Linked DNA regions of Homo sapiens. Each later gene encodes a partner of the first gene's protein in a complex. Each region holds a gene or a part of one and is shown in the gene's direction. Other genes may lie near its edges.

Evidence for each region.
Region 2: the proteins of SF3B6 (region 1) and SF3B1 are in contact, whole or in part, in a crystal structure (PDB 2F9J), measured with the Homo sapiens proteins. Residues at the interface, in NP_057131.1 of Homo sapiens: Arg12, Leu13, Pro14, Pro15, Glu16, Val17, Arg19, Ile20, Ala32, Met35, Tyr36, Arg46, Gln47, Ile48, Arg49, Val50, Gly51 (codon at 5,089), Asn52 (codon at 5,092), Thr53 (codon at 5,095), Thr56 (codon at 5,104), Thr59 (codon at 5,113), Ala60 (codon at 5,116), Tyr61 (codon at 5,119), Val63 (codon at 5,125), Glu65 (codon at 5,131), Asp66 (codon at 5,134), Ile67 (codon at 5,137), Phe68 (codon at 5,140), Tyr92 (codon at 5,212), Ala97 (codon at 5,696); in NP_036565.2 of Homo sapiens: Trp388, Ile392, Arg395, Asn396, Arg397, Pro398, Leu399, Ser400, Asp401, Glu402, Glu403, Leu404, Asp405, Ala406, Met407, Phe408, Pro409, Glu410, Gly411, Tyr412, Lys413, Val414, Leu415.

What each region holds. Positions count from the first base shown.
Region 1 is NC_000002.12:24,067,031-24,073,546, reverse strand, and holds the end of SF3B6 (splicing factor 3B subunit 6), read left to right. Parts: intron 1-5,087; coding exon 5,088-5,226; intron 5,227-5,695; coding exon 5,696-5,785; 3' UTR 5,786-5,961; downstream 5,962-6,516.
Region 2 is NC_000002.12:197,431,806-197,439,832, reverse strand, and holds the start of SF3B1 (splicing factor 3B subunit 1), read left to right. Parts: upstream 1-4,804; 5' UTR 4,805-4,833; coding exon 4,834-4,861; intron 4,862-8,027. UniProt on the Homo sapiens protein: Component of the 17S U2 SnRNP complex of the spliceosome, a large ribonucleoprotein complex that removes introns from transcribed pre-mRNAs.

The sequences.
Region 1 (6,516 bases):
CGTTTTAATTTAATATAAAGATTGGGGTTCATACCTTCAAGTGATATTTACTGGACATCTACTGAATACCATTAACCATAATAAGTGCTTTTATTTGGATCAACAAAACTATAGCCCTGAGAGTAAAGTACCTTTCTATCTTACAGTGCTTAGTGGTAAAATCTTCTGACTCTAAATTGAACCTCTACATTACACAGTACCATAGCCTCTGACACCCGAACTCATATGAAAGGGCTAGTGACTTAAGAGTCCATCTGAAAGGATTTCTAAAGTTTTTATTTTAAAAAAATTATTATTTTACCACAGTAATGACTACGTATAAAGTTTTTATTTCTAGTCGGAATTCCGTCTTGTATGACTTGAGAGCTCCTTCCTGGCTTTAGGACTATGAGGTCTTGAGGACCCTCCTTTTGAATGACACTGTCCCTCCAGAGAGTAAACCAAGAGCTGGAAATACATGATCATTGGTACTCAGATGGGGATGAAAGTGAAAGTGTTATAGACCAGCTGTCCTTTTTAGGAGGTCTCAGTCCTTTGAGCATCTGATAAAAGCTTTAGACTCCTTCCACAGAAGAATACACTCATGTTGCATATATTTCAGGGGATACATGGACTCTAGGTCAAGAAACCCTGCTCTAGATACAGAATGGTATACAAGGCCAGGAGTTCAAGACCTGCCTGGCCAACATGGCGAATCCCTGCCTTGGGGATCAGGAGACAAGATTCTACTTCAGGCCTTGTTACTAGCCATGTGTGTGACTAGTTGCCTAGCTTTTTTGGTTTTCTCTTCATGTATGAGATAATCTGGGTGGTGGCCTTTTAGCTTTTAATGTGGAAACAGCATAGATTGGTTGTAAGGCCTGGGTTCAAATACTGGCTTGCCTACTCTTACGAAACTGGAGAAAATATTTAACCTTATCTGGGTTTCAATTATCTATGAAATACAGTCTTCCTAACCTACTGTCTTAAAAGAATTTTAATTTGGATGAAATTACACAGTGTCTGTGAAGGTACTTTATCAGTTTTCCTTCCCAGTGTACATTAGCCACTCTTCTGCTCCCATAGCATTTCCATGTGTCTCTCCTAGGTTAACACATGGTTTTGCTGTTGTCTCTATATTCATCTGTCACCCTGGGCAGGTTGTGAGTTCCTCCAGGGCTCGTACCATATATTATTTTTGTTTTTGTGTTGATAGCACTTGTGCGATACATGGTAAGCACCCGATGTATACTAAATGAATAATATAGAAAATAGTAGAATAGGCCAGATGTGGTGGCTCACACCTGTAATCCCGGCACTTTGGGAGGCCGAGACAGGCAGATCACCAGAGGTTAGGAGTTCGAGACCACCCTGGCCAAATGGTGAAACCCCCTCTCTAAAAAAAAATACAAAAATTAGCTGGGCATGGTGGCACGCGCCTGTAATGCAATTACTCAGGAGGCTCAAGTGGGAGAATCGCTTGAACCTGGGAGGCTGAGGCTGCAGTGAGTGAGCCGAGATCATGCCACTGCACTCCAGTCTGGGCGACAGAGTGAGATCCTGTTTCAACAAAAGAAAAGAAAATAGAAGAATAATATAAAAAGTGGTTGTGATTGGTTTACTAGGGCATTATAAAATTTATTGATAGTACTCAATTAAGGGATGCTTAAAATCAGTGAAGTTAGAGAATGTTTCAGAAAGCCAAAATGAAAGGACAGGGAATAAAGCAGGGGCATCTTCAGAAGAGTGCAGAGCAGCTCAGAACCTTTGTGCTTCTATTTTCCTTGTATCTGGAATGGTTTTCACCAGCTCATCTCATGCCTGGCTCCTCCTCATTCTTCAGGTCTCAGCTTCAGTGTCACCTTTTCAGAGGGGTTTTCCCTGACCACCCTAGCTGAAGTAGCTCCCTGTTTCCCTATCTGTTACAGCTTTCTACTTCTTGTATGAAACATTTCTTTTTTTAAGATGGAGTTTCGCTCTTGTTGCCCAGGCTGGAGTGCAATGGCACGATCTCGGCTCACTGCAAACTCCGCCTCCCAGGTTCAAGTGGTTCTCCAGCCTCAGCCTCCTGAGTTGCTGAGATTACAGGCACCCACCAGCATGCCTGGCTAATTTTTGTATTTTTAGTAGAGATGGGGTTTCACCACGTTGGCCAGGCTGGTCTTGAACTCCTGACCTCAGGTGATCCTCCCACCTCGGCTTCCCAAAGTGCTGGGATTACAAGCATGAGCCACCGTGCCAAGCCGAAACATTTCTTAAGATTTATAATTATTTCAGGGCTGGGCGCAGTGGCTCACGCCTGTAATGCCAGCACTTTGGAAGGCTGAAGTGGGCAGATCACAAGGTCAGGAGTTTGAGAACAGCCTGACCAACATGGTGAAACCTCGTCTCTACTAAAAATACAAAACTTAGCCAGGCGTGGTGGTGCATGCCTATAATCCCAGCTACTCAGGAGGCTGAGGCAGGAGAGCCGCTTGAACCCGGGAGGTGGAGGTTGCAGTGAGCCAAGATCATGCCACTGTACTCCAGCCTGGGCGACAGAGTGCGACTCCGTCTCAAAAAGAAAAAAAAAAGATTTATAATGATTTCATATTTATTTAATGTCTTTCTACTGCCTGAATATAAGCTTGAAGGAAGGGATGATGCTTATCTTTTTCACTATTGTATTTCTAGTGCCTGTCGCAGAAAGAACATAGTCTATGTGTTGAATAGGTTAATAGAAGTTTAGGGTACAGGAGCTTAGGTCTAAATTATAGATTGAGAAACAGCTGTTTTTCTGTTCCATTACTGTGATCATGCTTTATTGTATACCTGGCACCTGGCACTAGGGTGACCAACCTTCCCAGTTTGCCCAGTACTGAGAGATTTTCTGGGACACTGGACTTTCAGTGCTAAAACCTGGACAGTCCCAGTCAAATCAGGATGATTTGGTTTGACCCTACCTGGCATGTAGCAGGCACTTGGTACTTTGTACTTTTTAAAACTCTTTGATACTTGTTACCTCTTTTGATTATTAAACCCACGTGGAAGGTAGGGCACGTGATAGAGCCTGATGGCACTGGATACATGAAGCATCCGAAGCTCACAGAGGCTAAGTTACACGCTTAGGTGTTCTTATTCCTACTCTAAGATTTTAATGCCAGTCAAGAAAATTGTAGCACTTTGGGAGGCTGAGGTGGGTGGATCACTTGAGGCCAGGAGTTCGAGACCTGCCTGGCCAACATGGCAAAACCCCATCTCTACTAAAAATACAAAAATTAGTCGGGCATGGTGGCGCACACCTGCACAAGAATTGGTTGACTCTGTCTCAAAAAAATAAGAAAATAATGTTAGCTCAGTGTCCAATACGTGGTAGGTACAGATACATGCTTTTAAAAGTTCAAATTATAATATGGCTCTCAAGGTGTGAGGTTGATAATTAGGGCTGGGACACTTAAGATGGAGAGTCTTTAAAGTGGGGTTAGTGTCTATCCCTATTCTAGTTCCTAAGAAGATATAAGAGGAAGAAAGAGAGTTGCTTTGTTTAGTTTTGTTTTGAGCTTCCTGAACAAAGTGTGTGTGAGAGAACTGATAGAAGAAAGTAGATCTCCACTTTTCAAAGGCGTATTAGCGTCTGCCTTATGCGTGGCACTAAAGGAATAAATGAAGTACGCATAAGATCACCTTTGCTCTTAAGGAACTGAAAATCTTATTAAGTTTTTAGAAGTCAAAAGTCTGAAAGTTGTTAAGACTTGCCAGAGCCTAAAGAACATTCTAAAACCCCTCGTCAGGCCCACACAACCTGACAAAGTGAGCGCATTCATTGACAGTGGCACCCTCCAATCACCCCCAGTACCCTATTCCTTTTCAATTTTACAGGAAGCACAAGCTTGAACAGGGCCCAGACTATAGTCCTATCCTAGATCAAGTCTAGGCAGGTACCTCCTCTTCCCATGGCTCCACTGCTTTTATTCAACCCTATGTAAGGACTGTGGCAGATGGAGAGTCAGCCCACAGTCTTAAACCTCATTCCACAGTTGCACTGGGTGGTTGGAACACAGATGGAGGCAAGGGGGCCATCTTGTCACCCAGAGCCTGAACTGAGTGGGACCTCTACCCATTGTCTCCACTAACAGTCACATGGCCACCTGCTGCCTGCAATTTAGCGTTGCGTTGCTCCTCAAACTTCTCTACCTCTCCCAGAGGAAGTTGGTGAGGTGAAGGAAGGAAGTGGCCAGGAATAACTACACTAACAGCAACCTCGTATCCATAAGTAAGGTTAGCTTCCACTTCCAGCCACCTTCCAGCATTCTGCCCTGGCTCACTGATAACCCTATCCACAAGCACACTTCCACTCCCATCTTTGCAGAAGCCTAGCCCTTCTCCCTAGCCACACAGCTGTATCGTGCATTAGCACTTGAGTTGTATTAAAAATGAATGTAGACCGGGTGTGGTGGCTCATGCCTGTAATTCCAACACCTTGGGAGGCTGAGGCAGGCGGATCACTTGAAGTCAGGAGTTTAAGACCAGCCTGGGGAACATGATGAAACCCTGTCTCTACTAAAAATACAAAAATTAGCTGGGCATGGTGGCACATGCCTCCAGTCCCAGCTACTTGGGAGGCTGAGACACAAGAATCACTTGAACTTGAGAGGCAGAGGTTGCAATGAGCTGAGATTGTGCCACTGCACTCCAGCCTAGGCAACAGAGTGAGAGTCTATCTCAAAAAAACAAAAACAAAAACAAAAACAAAACAAAACAAAGACAACGTAGAGCCAGTCAGGGTGGCAAGAGCACCTGTAGTCCCCACAACTCACGAGGCTGTTCTGTGTAGTAGCTGTGTTCTTAGTATTCCTGATGTGACAGTCAGCTTGACCTATGGATATTTTAGTTAAGATAAAAACGAAGAACAAAATTACCTAATTCAAGAAATTACAGGCTTATCCGGTATATCTATCCATGTTTATTTCCTCTGATGGTTTCAGGTTGATTTCAAAATACTTAACTAAAAACGTATTTCAATTTACTGTTTTTAAAAGACAGTTACCAGTTTAAAAGACAGTTCTGTAAGTCAACTATCAATGCTCAGGTAAATGTATATCTTAATTAAGTTTAACTTACCTCTCCAGGGGGAACACACCTGAAACTAGAGGAACAGCTTATGTGGTCTATGAGGACATCTTTGATGCCAAGAATGCATGTGATCACCTATCGGGATTCAATGTTTGTAACAGATACCTTGTGGTTTTGTACTATAATGCCAACAGGGTAAGTATAGCAAAGTTCTCATTGTGTAGTGATCTCATTTGAGAATTAGTGTAGAACTGGCCGGGCGCGGTGGCTCATGCCTGTAATCCCAGCATTTTGGGAGGCCGAGGTGGGCGGATCACGAGGTCAGGAGATCGAGACCATCCTGGCTAACACGGTGAAACCCCGTCTGTACTAAAAATACAAAAAATTAGCCGGGCGTGGTGGCGGGCGCCTGTAGTCCCAGCTACTCGGGAGGCTGAGGCAGGAGAATGGCGTGAACCCCAGGGGGTGGAGCCTGCAGTGAGCCAAGATCACGCCACTGCACTCCAGCCTGGGCAACAGAGAGACTCCGTCTCAAGAGAATTAGTGTAGAACTGTACTGTGATGATATATGTCTACTATGACTTTCTTTTTTGGCTAATGCTATTGATGAAATTCATTTGGCTGTAGATTGGTAATTTAATTTTGGTGCTTACCACATTTCCAGGCATTTCAGAAGATGGACACAAAGAAGAAGGAGGAACAGTTGAAGCTTCTCAAGGAGAAATATGGCATCAACACAGATCCACCAAAATAAATGTTTTCTACATTTTCATTTGGACTAAATCCCACGAATGACAACTACCACCTTTTTTTCCTTTTTAATTAATACTAAATATTGTGATTTCTTATTTGAGGTTCAAAATGACCTGCTTGAAACTTTGATACATATTGGAATACATTATGTTAATAAACTTGTAGCTTTTTGTGAAACACCTCAGTCTTTTCTCTTGAACTTTCCCTTCCTGTTTGATACCAGGAAAAAACAGTTGAAGCTTATCAAGAATTGTAGGTGCTCCTAGGGATTCTGAGTTTCTTGAGAACAGGATCTCTTTACATTCTTAATGCCTCCAGGGCCCGGTGCAGTGCTTAGCCATCAAAGGAACTTGCTGTTTATTGCATGTCCATTAATAATGAAATCTTCATAACAACTCAGTGAAGATAGGTATTTGCATTTTGCAGGTGAGGAAACCAAAGTTCATGATGTTGGTTGAATGAATAAAATGCTAACATACAAAGCTGGTGTGATAACAACCAGTTATTAACCAAGCCTTTACATTTGAATAATGCTTGCTTTATAGTTAACAAAACACCTGTGTCAATATGGGTACCCTTGTCTTTAGAACAGAGGTCTATTATAGAAATGGTCATTTAGATGATAGTACATTGTTAGAAACTTAGATTTGCCTCTTTAAATTGTTTTTTAATTATTATGGGTACATAATAATTGTCACATTGGTAGAAATTTGAGAGCAAGCTGCTTGGGTA
Region 2 (8,027 bases), about 170 Mb from region 1:
TTCACCATGTTGGCCAGGCTGGTCTTGAACTCCTGACCTCAAGTGATCCACCCACCTTGGCCTCCCAAAGTGCTGGGATTACAGGTGTGAGCCACCGCGCCTGACCTGATTTTTATTTTATTTTATTATTTTATTTTTTTGAGATGGAGTTTTGCTCTTGTTGCCCAGGCTGGAGTGCAATGGTACCATCTTGGCTCACTGCAACGTCTGCCTCTCAGGTTTAAGCAATTCTCCTGCCTCAGCCTCCCGAGTAGCTGGGATTACAGGCATGTGCCACCATACCCGGCTAATTTTGTATCTTTAGTAGAGATGGGGTTTCTCCATGTTGGTCAGGCTGGTCTCAAACTCCCGACCTCAGGTGATCCACCCGCCTCGGCCTCCCAAAGTGCTGGGATTACAGGCGTGAGCCACAGCTCCAGGACTGATTTTTATTTTAATTGAGACAAAGTCTCATTATGTTGCCCAGGTTGGTCTCCAACTCCTGGTCTCAAGCAATCCCTGCACCTCAGCCTCCCAAATTGTTGGGATTATAGATGTGAGCCACCACACTCCACCTAGGAATTAGTATTAAGAGTAGCATGGCCCTAGGCTGGGCGCAGTGGCTCATGCCTGTAATCCCAGCACTTCAGGAGGCCGAGGTGGTTGAATCACGAAGTCAGGAGTTCAAGACCAGCCTGGCCAATATGGTGAAACCCCGTCTCTACTAAAAATACAAAAATTAGCCGGGCGTGGTGGCATGTGCCTGTAGTCCCAGCTACTTGGGAGGCTGAGGCAGGAGAATCACTTGAACCCAGGAGGCAGAGGTTGCAGCGAGCCAAGGTCGTGCCACTGCACTCTAGCCTGGGGAACAGAGCAAGACTCCGTCTCAAAAAAAAAAAACAAAAAACACAACAGAAAAAAAAGAATCACTATTACTGCTTTTTCCGTTTGCCTCTGACTTCACTGATACAGCTCAGCTTGGTACTGTCACCAATGTGGCTGTCTTTTACAGACCTTAGGTGAAAGCAGCAGATGCAGTGACAGTGATGAGCTCCATGATAGCAATGGGATGATGAGGTCCCATCACTACTTGCCCTCCTTAAGTAGTGTCGGTTTGGACCCTATTTCCTACTTTAGTGATGCTTAACTGTCAGCAGCAAGGTGGGCACAATTGTCACAATTAGCATAAGGTCAGAATGGTTGACCTGCAGAAATATATGATTCATACAACTGGGTATCCTTAGAGGCAAGATTGATGGGCAGCCTACAAGGGTACTGCTCAATCTGTGCAACCAAGAGAAATAAAACATGAATCATTAGGAGGCTGAAGGCACTTGTCCCAATTTAAAAAAAAAAGTGATCTTCAGCTAGTTTCCAGACCTAAGGTAGTTTTCAGATCTAGAAATGAGTTCAGGTCATCTAATTGAAGCAGAAGCTAGGTCCCCAGGAAGGACTGTGTAACACCACAGTGTTTGTTTTGTTTTCCTTTTTTTTGTTAGTATTTGTTAATGATCCCTTAATACTTCTCCAAAGGGAACTATCATTTGCTCTGGTAACTATACACTGGGAAAAGTGGAATAACCAAATATTTTAAGACCTGTGGGACACAAGGTCCAAATCGACATTGTTATCCAAAGTGTCATAATATCCTATCAGAGTGGGTGTATGTAGGGGCCAGATCACACATGAAGTTCTGACCCAGGTTTGGCTCACGGTGGCAAGAACCCACCACATCTTATTTCCCAAGTTCTCGAAGTTGGTTAAGGGGCTCCTGCCTGTAATCCCAGCACTTTGAGAGGCCCAGATGGGAAGATCGCTTGAGGCTAGGTGTTCGAGATTAGCCTGGGCAATATAGCAAGACCCTGTCTCTACAAAAAATTTAAAAAGTAGGCAGGTGAGATGGCTCACGCCTGTAATCCCAGCACTTTGGGAGGTCGATGTGGGTGGGTCACTTGAGGCCAGGAGTTCAAGACCAGCTTGGCCAACATGGCAAAGCCCTGTCTCTACTGAAAATAAAAAATTAGCTGGGTGTAGTGGCACACATCTGTGGTCCCAGCTACTAGGGAGGCAGAGGTTACAGTGAGCTGAGATTACGCCACTGCACTCCAGCTTGGGTGAAAGAGTAAGACTCTGTCTCAAAAAAAAAAAATTAAAAAGTAGCTGGGCATGGTGGTGTGCACCTGTAATCCTAGCTACTCAGGAGGCTGAGTTGGGAGGATCGCCAGAGCCCAGGAGTTTGAGGCTGGAGTGAGCCACTGCACTACAGCTGGGGCAACAGAGCAAGACCCCATTTCTAAAAACAAAGCAAAACTAAACTGAACTAAAGTGGGCCTGTGGGATAAGAACTATCACATTGGGATTTATTAGGGAAACTGGCTCCTGCAATTTTGGAGACTAAGTCCCTTGACAGGCCATCTGCAAACTAGAGGCCCTGAGATGCTGGTAGCTCAGTCCAAGTCCCAAGGTTTAGAATCAGCGAAGACAATGATGTAACTCAGTCCAAGGACAAAGGCCTGAGAACCAGGAGGAAGGGGTGGGGATAGGGTGCTGCTGGTGTAAATCCAGGATTCCAAAGGCTGAGCAGCTTGGGGTCGTTGTCCAAAAACAACAATAGAGGAAGATTGGATGTAGCCAGCCTTCGCACATAAATTGACATTTTCACCTTTTCTCTGCTTCTGTTCTTCCTGGGGTCCCCAGCAGACTGGATGGTACCTGGCCACACGGAGGGCCGATCTTCCCCACCTAGCCCACTTGTACTCACACGCTAATCTCTGGAAACACCCATACAGACACACCACAAAATAGCTTTACCAGGTTTCTAGGTATTCCTTAATCCAGTCAAGTTGACACTTAAAATTAACCATCACATCTTTTTTTCTTTTTTTTTTTTGAGACGGAGTCTCGCTCTGTTGCCCAGGCTGGAGTGCAGTGGCACTATCTCCGCTCACTGCAAACTCCGCCTCCTGGGTTCAAGCGATTCTCTTGCCTCAGCCTCCTGAGTAGCTGGGATTATAGGCAGGTGCCACCATGCCCGGCTAATTTTTGTATTTTTAGTAGAGATGGGGTTTCACTGTGTTGGTCAGGCTAGTTTTGAACTCCTGACCTTGTGATCCGCCTGCCTCAGCCTCCCAAAGTGCTGGGATTACAGGCATGAGCCACCACGCCTGGCCAAAAATTTTAATTTATCAAATTTATTCCTTTACTGATGCTAATAAAAATCTGTGGTGGCTCACGCCTATAATCCCAGCACTTTAGGAGTCTGAGGCAGGAGGACTGCTTGAGGCCAAGAGTTTGAGACCAGCCTGGGGAATATAGTAAGATCTCATTCTACAAAAAATAAAAATTAGCTGGGTATGGTGGCCCATGTTGGTGGTACTAGCTACTCTGGAGACTGAGGCAGGAGAGTCTCTTGAACCTTAAGGTCGAAGTTAGGGTCAGCTGTGATCGCACCACTGCCCTCCAGCTTGGGCAACAAACCAAGACTGTGTGTCAAAAAAACAGAAAAAAAATCGTTTGTGTCACCTGATCTGAAGAAGGGAGGGAGTCTGGTGAGAGGGAAAGAGGGAGCAAGGCTGCAGGTCAGGAGTCACCAGGGACAGGTTATCTAAGCTCTCAGTCCAGTGCCATTGTCCATATATCTCCCACCTACCGCTAGCCTCAGGAAAATGGCTCCTCACTTTACCCAAAGTAGATATGGGGTCTTCCTGCAAGAGGAATACACCCATACCATTTCCCTCCCTTCAAACGACCATACTGACCCATGGTATGGTTAGTATTTGGGTTGCAGGTTTATCACATAGCGAGGTACTCCTCTCTTTGTGATGGCTCTAACCTTGATAACTACCTGTTTTCCTCGGCTGCTTCCGGGACCCATCTTTCTGAGCCTTTCTTTCTTTTTCATCGTCGAAGTCAAAGACCAGTGTGACAGTACAAGGTTATATTATAATTGATGCCCAGGAAAACAGACTGCCGTATTCTGATCTATTAAAATTCCTGATTTAGGAATACCGTCTAGGATTTAAGAGAAACATCTAATGAATGTTAATAATGACGATGAGTGGTTTTCTAGGAACCCATAAAGTAAAAGGCTTTAAAAGGGTGGCAAGATTGTCACTGTGCAACTCAGCAACGATTTGTGAGGCTCAACGAAATTCCTACCCAAATTATTTGCAATTATTAAACAGAAAGAATGAAAAATGACCTTGAATTACAGGGCGAAAGATGGGACTGTTAAGACTGTCTTCGTAACTAAGCACTGTAAAGACTGAGACAGCTGCAAGGGAAAGTTTTCCTCGAGCTCTTCCAGTGAATTTTGGGAAAAGGGATTGAATGTCTGAGGTCTCTTCCAGCTCTGAAACCGCAGCGTTTCGTACAGTGTTCATTTTTTTTTAATGGGAGGGGTCTCGGGGTCTTGCTCTGTCGCCCGGTCTGGAGGCTTGAGTACAGTGGCGCGACACGATTACGGCTCACGGCTGCCTCGAACTCCTGGGCTCAAGCGATGCTCCCGCCTCAGCCTCCAGAGTTGCTGGGACTCAGTGTCTGTTCTTAACTCCCTTCGTAGAATCCACTTTCCTCCAGGGCAAAGTTACTCACTTAAGGACCTTACGGCTCGGCTCGGGGATTTCCTGGGTCACCACGCAGGCGACTTCAGGGCCCAACCGTGTCTCCTCCCCCACCCACAATGCACCTCGCGGTTCCCTCTAGGTGGCAGTTCTGTCACGTGTCACCCGACGGAGCGCGCTCCCGTTTGGCGCACGCGCAGAGTGCAGCCCCCAGCTATTTTTCTCCGTGGCGGCGGCGACGAGCGGAAGTTCTTGGGAGCGCCAGTTCCGTCTGTGTGTTCGAGTGGACAAAATGGCGAAGATCGCCAAGACTCACGAAGGTAAGCGGTCTTTCCCTGCTTACGTGTTTTCTTCGTTGCTAGCCTAATAAAAGCCTTTTTTCCTAGGATTCTGCCTTTTTCTATGGTTTCTTTCGTAGGAGCTGAGCCCGCGTTTCGGGGCCAAGGGTCGTCTCCTCCGCGCCAGCGGCGCAGGCCACTGCCCCGCGTAATGGCGTCCTCCTCTTACACCCCCGACAGGCGCTTTGTTCAGTGTTTGGGACCTGCTACTTCAGAGTAGCTTCTCTTCTCTGACCAGAGGGCCTCGTTTAAGCGGCTTCCTCAGTAGGATTCGTGGGCAAGGGATCGGGGAAGCGGGCGTGGGGAGAAGGTCTCACTCGCCTCTCGACACTGTCGTCCCCATAGTTTGTGCAGAAGAGGGTCAGAAAAGCACTGAAATACGGCAGCCGCTTTTCCGGCAGACTGAATCGAATTTGGTTAAACCGAGATTCCGTTACTCCTACCCTTGTGTGTCTTCAAGCGTCAGTTACTTGTTTATTTTTCTTGCACGAAACGATTTGGGGATAAAATCTGGTAGTTGTTTTCCCTCCCTTAGTCACTTTTAGTATAATATTGATCTTTTTCTTTGGAGACTGGTTATTGGAGGAGCAGATGGAAGAGGAAAACATAAATTACTTTCATTAATGGCCGAAGCTTTCAAGCTAGTTGATCGTTTTATGGAATACAGAGTGTGCAAATTAGGAAAACGTTGGGAATAGACTGGAGTTCATTAGGAAGTATCCAGAGATGACAGAAAATGGGATCACTTTTCAGAAAAGACGAGGCATGAGAAGTTGGAACTGCATTCTTTGATTTCTGACTTGGAATCCGAGATTTTCACTGAGAACGAGACTTCTAAGTCACTTTTGTTTCATATGTTCTTTCTGGGTATTTGGCTCGGTATTAGTCTGTGAGAGGTAAGAGACTGAGGCCATCCAAAATTTTACAGTCTGATAGGAGAAACAGATGTGTATGTTCTCATTCTCTCATGAGGCCAGATGCATGCTTAAGTAGAAGAAAAAGCAGCATGTTCTGGGAACCTGGGTAACGGAATGATTATGTTTAGGGTTGTTTCACTGAGGAGGTTACATGACCGTGTTTTAAAAGGATCAGTCAGTTTTAAATCGGGAAGGACATCTGAGCCTGAGAACATCTTGTAACAAGGTATTGAATCGTGAAAGGTGTGTTTGAGTAGTAGTCCACTGTAGCAGGAACAGAGGGTGCAAGTAGAGAAGAAATAAATGAATCTGGAAAGGTTGGATTAGGACCAGAATGTGAATGGCTTTGAATAGTTGGGTCACCCAGAGGACCTGAAGTCCAGCTTTCTGCTATTTATCAAACATGCTAATGAATTGTCAATGACTTTAATATTAGTATACCATTTTAGGTATTTAGGATTTAAATGCTCTCTTAGTATTCCTAGGCTTTATTATTTTGTCTTTAGACTATCTCAAATATAACCTTTTGCAAAGTAAGTAGAAAATATAAAGTTGTGCTGTTTTTGTTCATTCAGGATGTTATTCATTTGGGGATATTGATAGTATAGCTTTGATACTTATTTATTGGTAACTTCAGTATAAGATGCCCTCAGACAGGAAAATCAGAATTCTGATCAGTTTTCCTGAATTTTTTAGAAACCCAGCTAAAAACTTTGGTCTATTGCTATTCATTGGCCAAACTTGTTATTTTTGAGATTATTCTATCAATGTGAATTAAGTGATACCATAAGAAAATAGCAGAACATTCAATACTTGAGCACTGTCTGTGCCCATCCCTATGGGATATGTCAGGGGATGATAAATGTTTAGTAGAAATACACATAATACTGACATAGCTTGTTGCTTCCTTCCTAATGGAACTCTAGTTCTTCATGGTCCATCACTGTTTTCTCTTGTTAAGCCATTTTTGATAAACTGAAGCAGAATTAATGCTTTTTGGGGCAGTGCTGCTATAGTACTCAGTATAAATGTTATATTGCTTAGAATAGTCTGTTGTGTTAAGATTTTCTCTTCTCCTTAGCTCCAAGATTGAGATAAACTGATAACTATTTATTTATTTTGCTGTCATATTCCTTTCAAACATTTCTTTTTTTATTTTTTATTTTTTTTTGAGATAGGGTCTTTTTCTGTTGCCCAGGCAGAAGTGCAGTGGTGCAATCTCGGCTCACAGCAACCTCCGCCTTTTAGGTTCAAGCGATTGTCCTGCTTCAGCCTCCTGAGTACTAGTATCGCAGGCATGTGCCACCACACCCGACTAATTTTTGTATTTTTAGAGACAGGGTTTCGCCATGTTGGCCAGGCTGGTCTCAAACTCCTGACCACAAGTGATCCTCCCACCTTGGCCTCCCAAAGTGCTGGGATTACTGGCATGAGCCACCATGCCTGAACCCTTTCAAACATTTCTATTAGGATCAGGCCTCACATCCTCTTTAACCAATCTGATTATATTTTACCCTGGCCAATGTGGCTTATGCTTTCCAGGATTGAAATATAAAAAGAACTGGAATTACTCAAATCAGATAAAATCTTTTAGATCTTTCCACGTATTATGTCAGGTGTATGGTTATGAATATGCATAATCTTGCCATCCAGCAGTTCTTCAGATACTGCTGACTTTGGCATACAAACAGGGAACACACATTATTCTCTGTTTTGTAAGGGGAAAATGGTTTAACCAAAAATCCTACATATCAGCTTGTTTTGCCACTAATCCTTTGAATTAGATTTTTTGGGACATCACAAAGCTGAAAAAGTTTTTTCCCTAATTCTTTGCTTGATAAATGGCTGGAATAGTTATAGTTTTGTTATTGTGTATCTTGCTGATCTATATATTTTTTCCTGTGTTTATTTTTGAGACCGGGTCTTGCCCTGTTGCCCAGGTTGGAGTGCAGTGGCGTGATCATAGCTCACTTAACCTACAACTGCTGGGCTCAAGTGATCCTCCCATTTCAGCCTCCTGAGTAGCTACAACTACAGGCGTGTGCTACCATGCCTGGCTAATTTTTACAATTTTTTTTTAGAGATGGGGTCTCGCTATGTTACCCAGGCTGATCTCGAACTCCTGGGCTCAAGCAGTCCTGCCTTGGCCTCCCACCGTGCTAGGATTACAGGTGTGAGCCACGATGCCTGGCCTTGAAATTTTTTTTAATAGAATTAATCATTTAGGAATC